Homo sapiens: one gene and its partner. The protein of the gene in region 1 purifies or fractionates together with the protein of each later gene. This does not show direct contact. Each region holds a gene or a part of one and is shown on either strand. Other genes may lie near its edges.

Region 1 (5,055 bases):
TAGAATGACATTTAGGAGAATGACTTTATGATATTAGGGTGGACATAAGACTTAAACAGAACAGCAAAAGCACTGAACAGAAAGAAAAAGATTGACAAAATCTGGTTACACTGAAATTAGAAGTTTCTTCCACTGAAAGACATTCAGAGAGTGAAAAGGCCACATAATGCGAGAAGATATTTACAACACATATAACCAACAGAGGTTCATATTTAAATGATTCCTATATTGAATGTAAAGAAGAAACAATTCCACAGAAAAATGGGCAAACAACTTGCACGGACACTGCCCAAAATGGATACCCAAATGGCCAATAAATAAATGAAAAGGCACTTGATAACATTAGTCATCAGAATCATGAGGAAATATCACTACATTAGCTAAATTAAAATTACAGATATTACCAAATGTTGGCAAAGATTTGGAGCAGTAAGAACTCTCATACCCATAGGGTTGGTGAGAATGTATATTTGCATATACATTTTGGAAAACTACTTGGCATTATCTACTTAACTTTAAGATATGGATACTCTATGATTTAAATATTCCATTCCCAGGTTTATACCCGATGGAAGTGTGTGTGCTTGTGCACCAGAGACATATATGAGAATATTCATGGTAGAATTACTTGTAGTAGTCCCAAACTATAGACAATTCAAAATGTCCATCAGCAGTAGAATGAATAAATAAACAGACATACTCATACAATGGAATATGATACAGTAATGAAAATGAATGAACTGTAACCAAATGGAATAAATCTAACAAACATAACGCTATGTGAAGAAAACCAGACAGAAAGGAAAGTATTCTATGTGATTCCATTTATATAATGCTTAAAAATGAGGCAAAACTATTAACAAAATATATATGTTTAAGGATATATCCTTAGGTGATAAAAGTACAAAGGAAAGTAAGAAAGTAATTGCCATAAACAGTCAGGATAGTTGTCTTTGGTGGAGGCAGAGCCTGTAGTTATTGAGAGGGGGCATGTAGGGTGTTTTTGGGGTACAGAAAATGTTGTATTTCTTTACCCTTAAGGTGGTTACACGGTGGTTACGAATCTGTTTGTCATACTTGAGCTGTACTTTTTCATTTCATGCACAGTTCTGTATGTTATAATTTACTTTAAAAAACAAGATAGTGGGGCCAATAAAACAAATGATGACCTAGTATTATGCTGAGAGCAAATAAGGTACCAGTCCTGAATACATATCTGGGACATTTATTGGTAGCTTCCCTCTCCGTTTATAGCCTAAATAATGCATTCACAGGGCTGTAGTGATAAATTGTCAAAATGAGGAAATGAAAATATGTCCCACTTTTTGATGCCTATTCAGGTTTAAGAGTTTTATAGGCATTTGTCATTACTGGTCAGCTTTGATTTTAAGATCTGACTTAAGGGAAGATCTTGAAAGACAAGCACTTTGTGAGAGAGCTAGGCTTTACATACTGCAGCACAGCGCTGGGACTGGTATTATTTGTGGCTACTACAAATGAAAGAAAATCAGAGCCAGCATTTTCAAACAACATTCTCTGAAATATTTATTATGTTGAGTCCTCAGAGATATTTGCAAGAATTCCTTTAAGTTATTGTAACAAAAGTTCAAGGTGGGTTTATCAGAAACAAATCCCATTCACTCTCTATGTGCTAGTATTGAACCTTGAATCTACTGCATTTTTTTCAATAACTATAAGTTATATCATTTAAGTGCTGACAATTTAATGAAAAGAAAAGCTTTTACAAGAAAGATTAGAGGTCAGAAGGGTTTATCCTGGTAATAAGAGCCAAGAGTGGCATCGAGTTGTCTTGGCATATGAGATTATTCTGCATATCGAATTGTTACCACAAATCCAAAACTCAATATATTTAACTTAAAATTGTAATGGCAAGTTGGTTCTGCTGACACCTTCCTGGTCATCCCAGACCTTATAAATGTAAATTTTATGTAAAGCTTTAATAAAATACACATTCGTTGAATATCTACCATGTGGACTTGAATATCTTAGTGGACTGGAAAATTCAGCCTCTATGAATATAACATATGTGAAGAACACACACACACACACACACACACACACACACACACACACACACACACAGTGACCATGGGTTGAAAGTAGCATGCTCTGCTTAACATTGTACATGCTCAGGACTCATCTTCATAAGGACCTTGCAAGGTGGCCATTTGTTACTTTTTAGAGAAAAGGAAGCTGAGGATCAGAAAGGTTGTTATATCCCTGAGGTCACAGAACTAAATGACATTGACCATGGACAAACAGAATACACCTTTACCTGATGGTTCCCAGGTACAGGACAAACACATGGTTTTGTCTTGTACATCTCTAAGTTGCATACTTGCTTTGAAAGACTCAGTCTATTTGTGTAAAGATATATTAATATTTACCCTTTCAAATGGAAGTGAAAGCTAAATCTGCACTACCACAAATGTAGGAATGATTTGTCCACAACTTGCACAGAAAATAAATATTTTCTAGGCAAGAGTCACATAGCAAGTTCTCTGAATGGAAGAGGCAGGCTCTGCTTCCTGGAAGTATTTTCCTTTGAAATGCTGGCAAAGGGGAACTTCAGAGGCAGAGAGCCTGGTGTGAAGCTCTGTGGGGTAACTGAAATGCAGTACGCCAAGTTCCTACCTTCTGATTGATTTTTATTGTCTCTTCTGTGTGGTAGAGGAGGAGCTTTTCCCCGGAAGAAGTCAGGTTAACGTACACCTGGAGGCAGGGGTACTGAGAAAGTTTCCAGCAGTCTGGACCACAGCTGAAGGAGCAATTAAATGTTTCCGTGATGGACGCATTCAGCAAGGTGCATTGAGACTCTTCGGTCCACACGCTGCAGAGAAAGGGGTGAGAGTAAACACAGGCCCAAGAGCTAATAGTGAGAAAGGTATAGTCCGAGGGAATTATTTCTCATCTCCTGAAGCTGAAAAATCTTTTCTAAATCTCTAATATGATCTATCTGTGTAAAGTTTAGGCCTTCGAATAGAACAGCTTTAAGCAAACTACCGTATAACATAGACAAACGTGGACACGTGAGAACGTTTTCAATGACTTCCATTGGATATGGTATTCTCCAGTGCTTGACTTAAGTTCTTTTTTCCCTTATGGAACTCACTGGTAACATGAGGCATACTTTAAAATCATCACCTGTCCTCACCCTGTATTTCTACATTGTAGGCAGCTTCTTGACATGCTCCAGCCCCTACCTCTGTATGTTTTACTTTGTACTTTCTGCATCCCAGCTCCCTCCCCAGCCCAGTTTGTAGGCACAGAAGGTGTGAGGGAGAAGGAGGGGAGAGATGGCAAAGGAGTGGAGGGTCATGTGGTCCAGCTTGACAGAGATGGAAGGACAGTGACAGAATGCCTTAAGGTCTTTCTAATAAGGGAAAAAAGATAACTCAACCCTTTCATTATGTCATGAGCAATCACTTACTGCACATTCCTTTCACCCTAATTGGTAATTTACATACATTACCTTCTTTTGTTCTCTCAACAGCTGTGCAAGTTGGGTAGTAATTTCTTTTTAAAAGTGAGTGAACTGAGAAATCCCATGACATATGCAAGGACATATGGGCAGTAAGTGTTGGAAATTGTGATCCAATCTTGTAATTCTCTAAGGCCCAGGCTCATTCTATTGTGTTTTGCTGTCTCCCCACAAACACAATGGAAAAGAAACCCTTTTATGCAGACTAATGGATGAATAAGGGTGCCCTGTTATCTCTCACCTGGAAGGATTCCAGCTGCCCATTGGTCAACTGGTCATTTAAAAATACCTTTAATTTTATGATCAAGATTAACATTTGTAATTAGGAATTAACACACCAGCAATTGATGGTTTGGTTTTGGGTATAAGCTGATCACCATAGCAATGGGAAAACATGTTTTCTTTGCAGATTAATACGCTTTCCTTTTGTTGGACAGGCATCCACAGCTTCCTACCCCTTTGCATGTGTGAAGTTTTATTCCAGAAGCAGGATACTAGACCTGATCCCCTCCCTTGGTGTGGCAAACTGTATTTTCCTGGAACATGGGTGGTCACATTTTGCTTATATACTGAGGAAAAAGTCTCTGATGGTTCTAACCAGATGTGAAGAGCTGAAAGCATTTTGGAATCAACGACCACTTGGGGCCTGAGGCATCAGCACTTTCATAGAAAATGAGCACAGCTGAAGGCCATCAGAGAAACAGAGCAGAGCAGCCACAAATGTGAAAGACGATGCCTTAATTTCAGCAAATTACTGTATTTCAGCTAGATTTTGCTTCTAAAATGAAAGTATTAATTTAGATGGAGAAACAAATGCCACAAAATGGTTTCATTTTCTTTTGGATTGAAACCTCAATTTTTCATTTGAAAAGGTCTTGTTTCTTTAAGCTGAACTGCTGTGAGACTTCATTCGATACATCAGGGCTGGGCTTGCCTGTGTTTAGAGTGTCCAATTTATGGACAACAGTTAGCTAGAGATGCTGGTGGGATTTACTACATGGCTTACTGAGGACAGGAGTACACTTGCTATCCCACAATTTATTTGCCTCCCTATCCATTCAATACACCTACAGCAAATATTGAAATGAAAAGATTCAAAATCTGTTATTTTTAAAAGTTGATGCATAGCAGTGTTTCTCAGCCTAGAAGGCCCATTAGAACAACCTGGGGAGCTTTAATAGATACTGGTGACTGGGTCCCACTCCGGACCAATTAAATCTGACCTTCTGGGTTGATGATGATGGGGGCTGGGTATTAGCATTTTTAAGAGTTTCTGGGGAAATTGGAATATACAGTTGAGAACCACTCACGTGGAAGGTGAGGGAGGGGTTGGTTGGGGTGGAAAAGGGAGGAGGGTGGGGAACGGACAGAAGTGTGAAGTGGCAGGAACAGTGACTTTGGAATAAGCGAGATGTGGGCTTGAATCTTAGCTCTGCCACAAGCAAGAGCTGTATGACACTGGGGAAATCATATCTCTCTTGAGCCTCAGTTTTGCCGTTTTTATAATGAGTATATTTATACTTACCTTATAGAGTAATTGTGATAATTAAAGA
Region 2 (5,055 bases), on another chromosome or scaffold:
CCCACATCCAGGAAAAGCTTATGTAAGAATTATAAGTTTTAAATAGGTGAGACTGCTTATTTTTTAACATAGAAAAATTGCAAATTTGTCAATCTTTAAGAAAGGATATAGTAAAGGCTTACCATGTGACCGTCCCAGTTTACTTAGGAATACAGAAATAGGTAATTAAAATAAATTGTGCAAACATATATTACATCAATCTGCCCAAATTATAAATTCAACGATGCATTAGGACTGTATTCAGTGCAATCAAAACATTATCAGTTACGGCTGCTGCTGCTAATGCTCATGCTCCTAAGAGAAATGTGTTGTAAAACCAGGCAGAACGGGCTGGAGAGAGACTCTCGTGGACTTGGAGGATGAATAAGCATTCCTTAATTAGCCCATCAGGTTAAGTGCAAGCATTAATGGGCCCTTCCTAAAGTCTAGCTTGACATCTTTCTCCAAACATGGCCAAGAAGAAAGTTCCATTAGCAATATTAATACAAGCTTAGTTGATCATTTTCATTCAATTAACTTCTTTCAATTAAATAGATAGCTTGACAAAAGCAGTGATAAAAGACCCAAAGGGACAGCTGATGACTCGAACTGAACATTAGTGTGCGAGAGGTCGCTGGTATTAAACGGACTGTAAATCTAGCATTCAATTTGGAAAATGCATTTCTTCTGCTCTCACTCCTTTAATGAGCAATTTTAGCTGACTAGATGTGTTTGCTGCAGAAATTTCATGGGAAGTCAAGCACCCTTTTCCTTTTCTTTTTTTCCATCCCAACAGTTACATTCTCACTGGTGGTGGTTTCCTGCCAACATTCCAGCCACAGTAACTCAAAACTTCACTTTCTGGTTAAGAACGAAGATATGTTAAAATAATTTATATACAACTAGCATTAAAAATTAATGACCTACTTTACGTTGTTAATCAATTTTTGAAAGGTTTGAAAAAACAATAAAATCTAAGAAATATTTAGTGAAAAATAAAAACATTTTAAAAACTGTATTTATATTTCATCGTGTCACAGTTAAGTAGTTAGGGCCACATAGAAAAGATGCATGTAACAAGGTTTAAAAACATGGTTTTAAGTGAGGCAAATGTAAATTAAAATGAAAGTAATTTTAGTTAATTAAATTACCTTAATTAATCAAAAGTACTAAAATTACTTTTCTTAATTAAAAAGGTATATAGGCCAGCTGCAGTGGCTCACGCCTATAATCCCAGCACTATGGGAGGCAGAAGCAGGAGGAATCCATGAGGCCAGGAATTTGAGACCAGCCTGGGTAACACAGTGAGACTCTGTCTCTACAAAAAAACTAATAAATTAGCTGGGTGTGGTGGCATGTGCCAGTAGCCCCAGCTACTCAGGAGGCTGAGGTGAGAGGATTGCTTGATCCCAGGAGTTCAAGGCTGCAGTGGAGTATGATGGTGTCATTGCACTCCAGCCTGGGAGACACATCAAGTCCATGTATCAAAAAAAAAAAAAAAAAAAAAAAAAAAAAAAAAAAAAGTCTTGCAAATTAAAACATGTCTGAAACAAACCTGCATTTTTATTCCTCTGCAACGAGTCAAGACAAAAGTTTGTACATTTTTCAATGTCAGTAAACAAAAAAATACATATACTCTATACCTTAAATAACTGAATCCATCTTTTCTGTTCCATCTGTATGCATTGTTGCATTTCAGAGCTAGTAGTAACTCCAATACTCTGAAATGCTGTAATATATTCTTCTCGAACTTCTGGCTTGGTTTCTGGATAAGCCAACTTGATGATCCCCAGGCATGCATCTCGAAGGCATCGAGACAACATTATCAGCTCTTCTAAAGTAAAAGGCATCATTGATGATTGTCTTTGACCTACAACTAAAAAACACAATCCAGTTTTCTATTGTTTCTTTTTCCATCTTTTAACACACACTGAAAGACTTAAAAAGCTTAAAACTTTTCTACTGTCTATGAAAACTGATGGGCCAAGTGGCCAGCAGCAAACTGGTTTCTCAAAATCCTTACCTTCTATGGGATCACCGAAGAATTCGTTATCATGTATGGAAATTAGTGAATGACTAAACAAGGAGCTAAAAAGATAAAAGAGTGGGATGATTCGACTAGAATCTTCAAAAGACATAGGAGAACCCCTGGATATCACCTGAAGCAACGGTACCATAGACCTTGAATTAAAGAAAAGAAGAAAAAAACCAGTCACTTTAAAATTAGTCTTAGTTTGGGAACTAATTAAAACATAACATCAAACAAATATAATCAGGGAAAGTAACATTTGCATTAGGAATTAAACTATTTAAAGGCAAGGTAAAGTCACCATGGCAATGCAGGTTAATAAACAGCATAGATTAATACAAAAAATAGCATACCAACCCATTAATCTTCACTAAGGTTTCTGCTACCTGTACCAACTAGATAATGAAGTTACTAAGAGTAAGCCAGTCGTTCCCAGACTAAGGCCCTAAGAAGAGCTCTAATAAGGCCACTATTCAAGACACACATGTACTTTACTCTTATGAGGAAACCATCCCCCTTCCCTTCTACTCAACATATTTAATAAAGGCAAATCATTCTGGTCTCAGGAAAAATTTATCCAGCGACTTAACTTTTGGTAACGTTGAAAGCTATTCAATATTGAAGCCAAACTGGAACCTCAAGAAACAAAGTTTCCAGTTCTCTATGGTGGCCTTGCTCCCACTGTCCACTTTATTCACCAGCTCCCATCCTGCTCCTGCTTTCACAGCAGCTAAGGTGGTCTTTACTCAGCAGCCTTTCACCCATCAAGAGCTATGATATATTAAATTAATTAGCCAGGTGTGGTGATAGGTGCCTGTAGTCCTTCCTAGTTACATAGGAGGCTGAGGCAGGAGAATGGCTTGAGCCCAGGAGGCAGAGGTTGCCATGAGCTGAGATTGCGCCACTGCACTCCAGCCTGGGGAACAGAGCCAGACTCTGTTTCAAAGAAGTTTAAAATATTAAGGAAAAAAAAAAAGAAAAGAAAAAAGGCTGGGTATGGTGGCTCACGCCTGTAATCCCAGCACTCTGGGAGGCCGAGGTGGGTGGATCACAAGGTCAAGAGTTCGAGACCAGCCTGGCCAACATGGTGAAACCCCATCTCTACTAAAGATACAAAAAATTAGCTGGGTGTGGTGGCACGTGCCTGTAATCCCAGCTACTTGGGAGGCTGAGGCAGGGGAATCACTTGAACCCGAGCAGCGGAGGTTGCAGTGAGCCGAGATCGTGCCATTGCACTCCAGCCTGGGCAACAGGGCGAGACTCCGTTTCCAAAAAAAATAAATAAATAAAAAAGAGCTACGATATATTAAATTGACTTATTTCACCTAGAACTTCTTCCTTTTCTCTCGTTTTTAAGTCTGGTTCCTTGTCTTATGGAACTTTTAGCTAATAGGCTCACCTGCAAGCTCTTTCTATAAAGTCCATGGTCCCCTCTACCAAGTCAAATCAATCACAGGTTAACAGACACTGTGAGCAAGATCACTCTCTTATCTCCCCAAATATCCATTTCCACAAAACTACAGGTATATATTAGATGAGATGTAACCAGGAGTCAGGATCTACAAATCATGTATGAAAGCAAAGCAGAAGGTAAGGCCACTTGTTCTAATTAGCGGGGCCGTAAGGAGCTTGGCTGAGCCACCTGGAGCTTCTGAGTCTCCATGGTGCATGGTTCAGGGGAGGGCACTGCCATCATCAACCGCTTTGAGAAAAGGAACCCATATGTGCACCTGAAACTGTGTTCCCACAGAGAAGATACACTATGTCCACATGCTACACAACCTGAGCATACATGATCCATGTTTGCAGTTGTGATACTCTGCATTTAGCACTATGCTGAACAGATTCATCAATGAATGAATGCCATTCTTCCAAAATTTAAACATTGTGGGACATTCAAAAAGGGACAAAGCACAATTGTCCTACCTCATTGCCAAAGCCAGGATGACACAAAAAGGTTGTTTATATGGAGGATAAAAAAGGCACAGGGCTGCCTTAACTGGACAGGGGTGGCTTCTTTCAACAGCCCTGCCTATGACAGCTGGAGCCCACTCCTGCGTCTTGATGAGCCTGCTTTCCACTGTTATCCCCGACAAGAATCCTTGTACTTGTACTGTTATCCCTGACAAGAATCATCACCACCAACACATCATCAGTTATGCACACATATTGCAGGATGCATAAAATTCTTATATTGGGTCCAAAAAAAAAAGGGACAGGGTAATTAACCAACAAAAACTTATTTGTCCTCTTCAAACCCCCTGTGAAACAAGCAAAAGGAATGCATCATTTTTACTTTAATGACAAAAACTGGGATTGGCAAGGATATGTGCCAATGCTGCCCTGCAGACAGGGCACAAACGAGACACAGGTCTCTTAGTTCTCTGCTGACCATTCTTTCTGCTATAAACACTGACTCAAATATTCCTCTGAAAACAGGTCAGTCTCAAAGACTTATGTGCAAATAAAGTCTGCAACTTACTGTAATGGAAAAGACACTGATTCACACATAACTCAGGGGAGCTAGGTGAATTACTGACCATCAGTGAGACCCGAGGCAATCCCTAACCTCTGTCTAGATCTTGAGAACAAGGGTTTTCAAATTGCGTGCCTGTGGGAACCACTCCTCCTCCTCGTCCAATGTCCCCCACCCTTGCAAAGAGCTTTTAAGAACGGATTCTTGCTTTAACAGGTTTTCAGAATACTACTGTAGACTGTTTTGAGATTATTTATCAAACAGCCAACACCAGCACCTACTGCCCACACTGAAGACATCTGGGCAAAGCATCTCTATGTTATGTTGTAGTCAAGGGATGCCTAATGGAAAACAGTACCAGCTGGCTATGGGTTCCCTCATCTTCAAGAAGAAGGAAACTAAACTGGCTGATTTCAATAGCAAGTACTGAAAATGAGGTAAATGAATAAAGATGTTATTTGCAAAATGTCTGATGTGTCAAAATTCACTATCCATCTGGAGATTGTTTAAATGTGGTCTGCTAGACTGGGGTGAAGAATAGTGCTTCTCGGTTGGCCCCCAAACCATCTGT

What was found. Proteins that work in one complex are often made in the same cells at the same time.
Region 2: the proteins of KCNMB2 (region 1) and UBE3C purify together in Homo sapiens (affinity purification with mass spectrometry; one large-scale study listed by BioGRID and IntAct). This does not show direct contact.

Annotation. Positions count from the first base shown.
Region 1 is NC_000003.12:178,825,974-178,831,028, reverse strand, and holds part of KCNMB2 (calcium-activated potassium channel subunit beta-2), read right to left. Parts: intron 2,852-5,055; coding exon 2,656-2,851; intron 1-2,655. UniProt on the Homo sapiens protein: Regulatory subunit of the calcium activated potassium KCNMA1 (maxiK) channel. Modulates the calcium sensitivity and gating kinetics of KCNMA1, thereby contributing to KCNMA1 channel diversity.
Region 2 is NC_000007.14:157,204,503-157,209,557, reverse strand, and holds part of UBE3C (ubiquitin-protein ligase E3C), read right to left. Parts: intron 2,161-5,055; coding exon 2,003-2,160; intron 1,856-2,002; coding exon 1,623-1,855; intron 1-1,622. UniProt on the Homo sapiens protein: E3 ubiquitin-protein ligase that specifically catalyzes 'Lys-29'- and 'Lys-48'-linked polyubiquitin chains.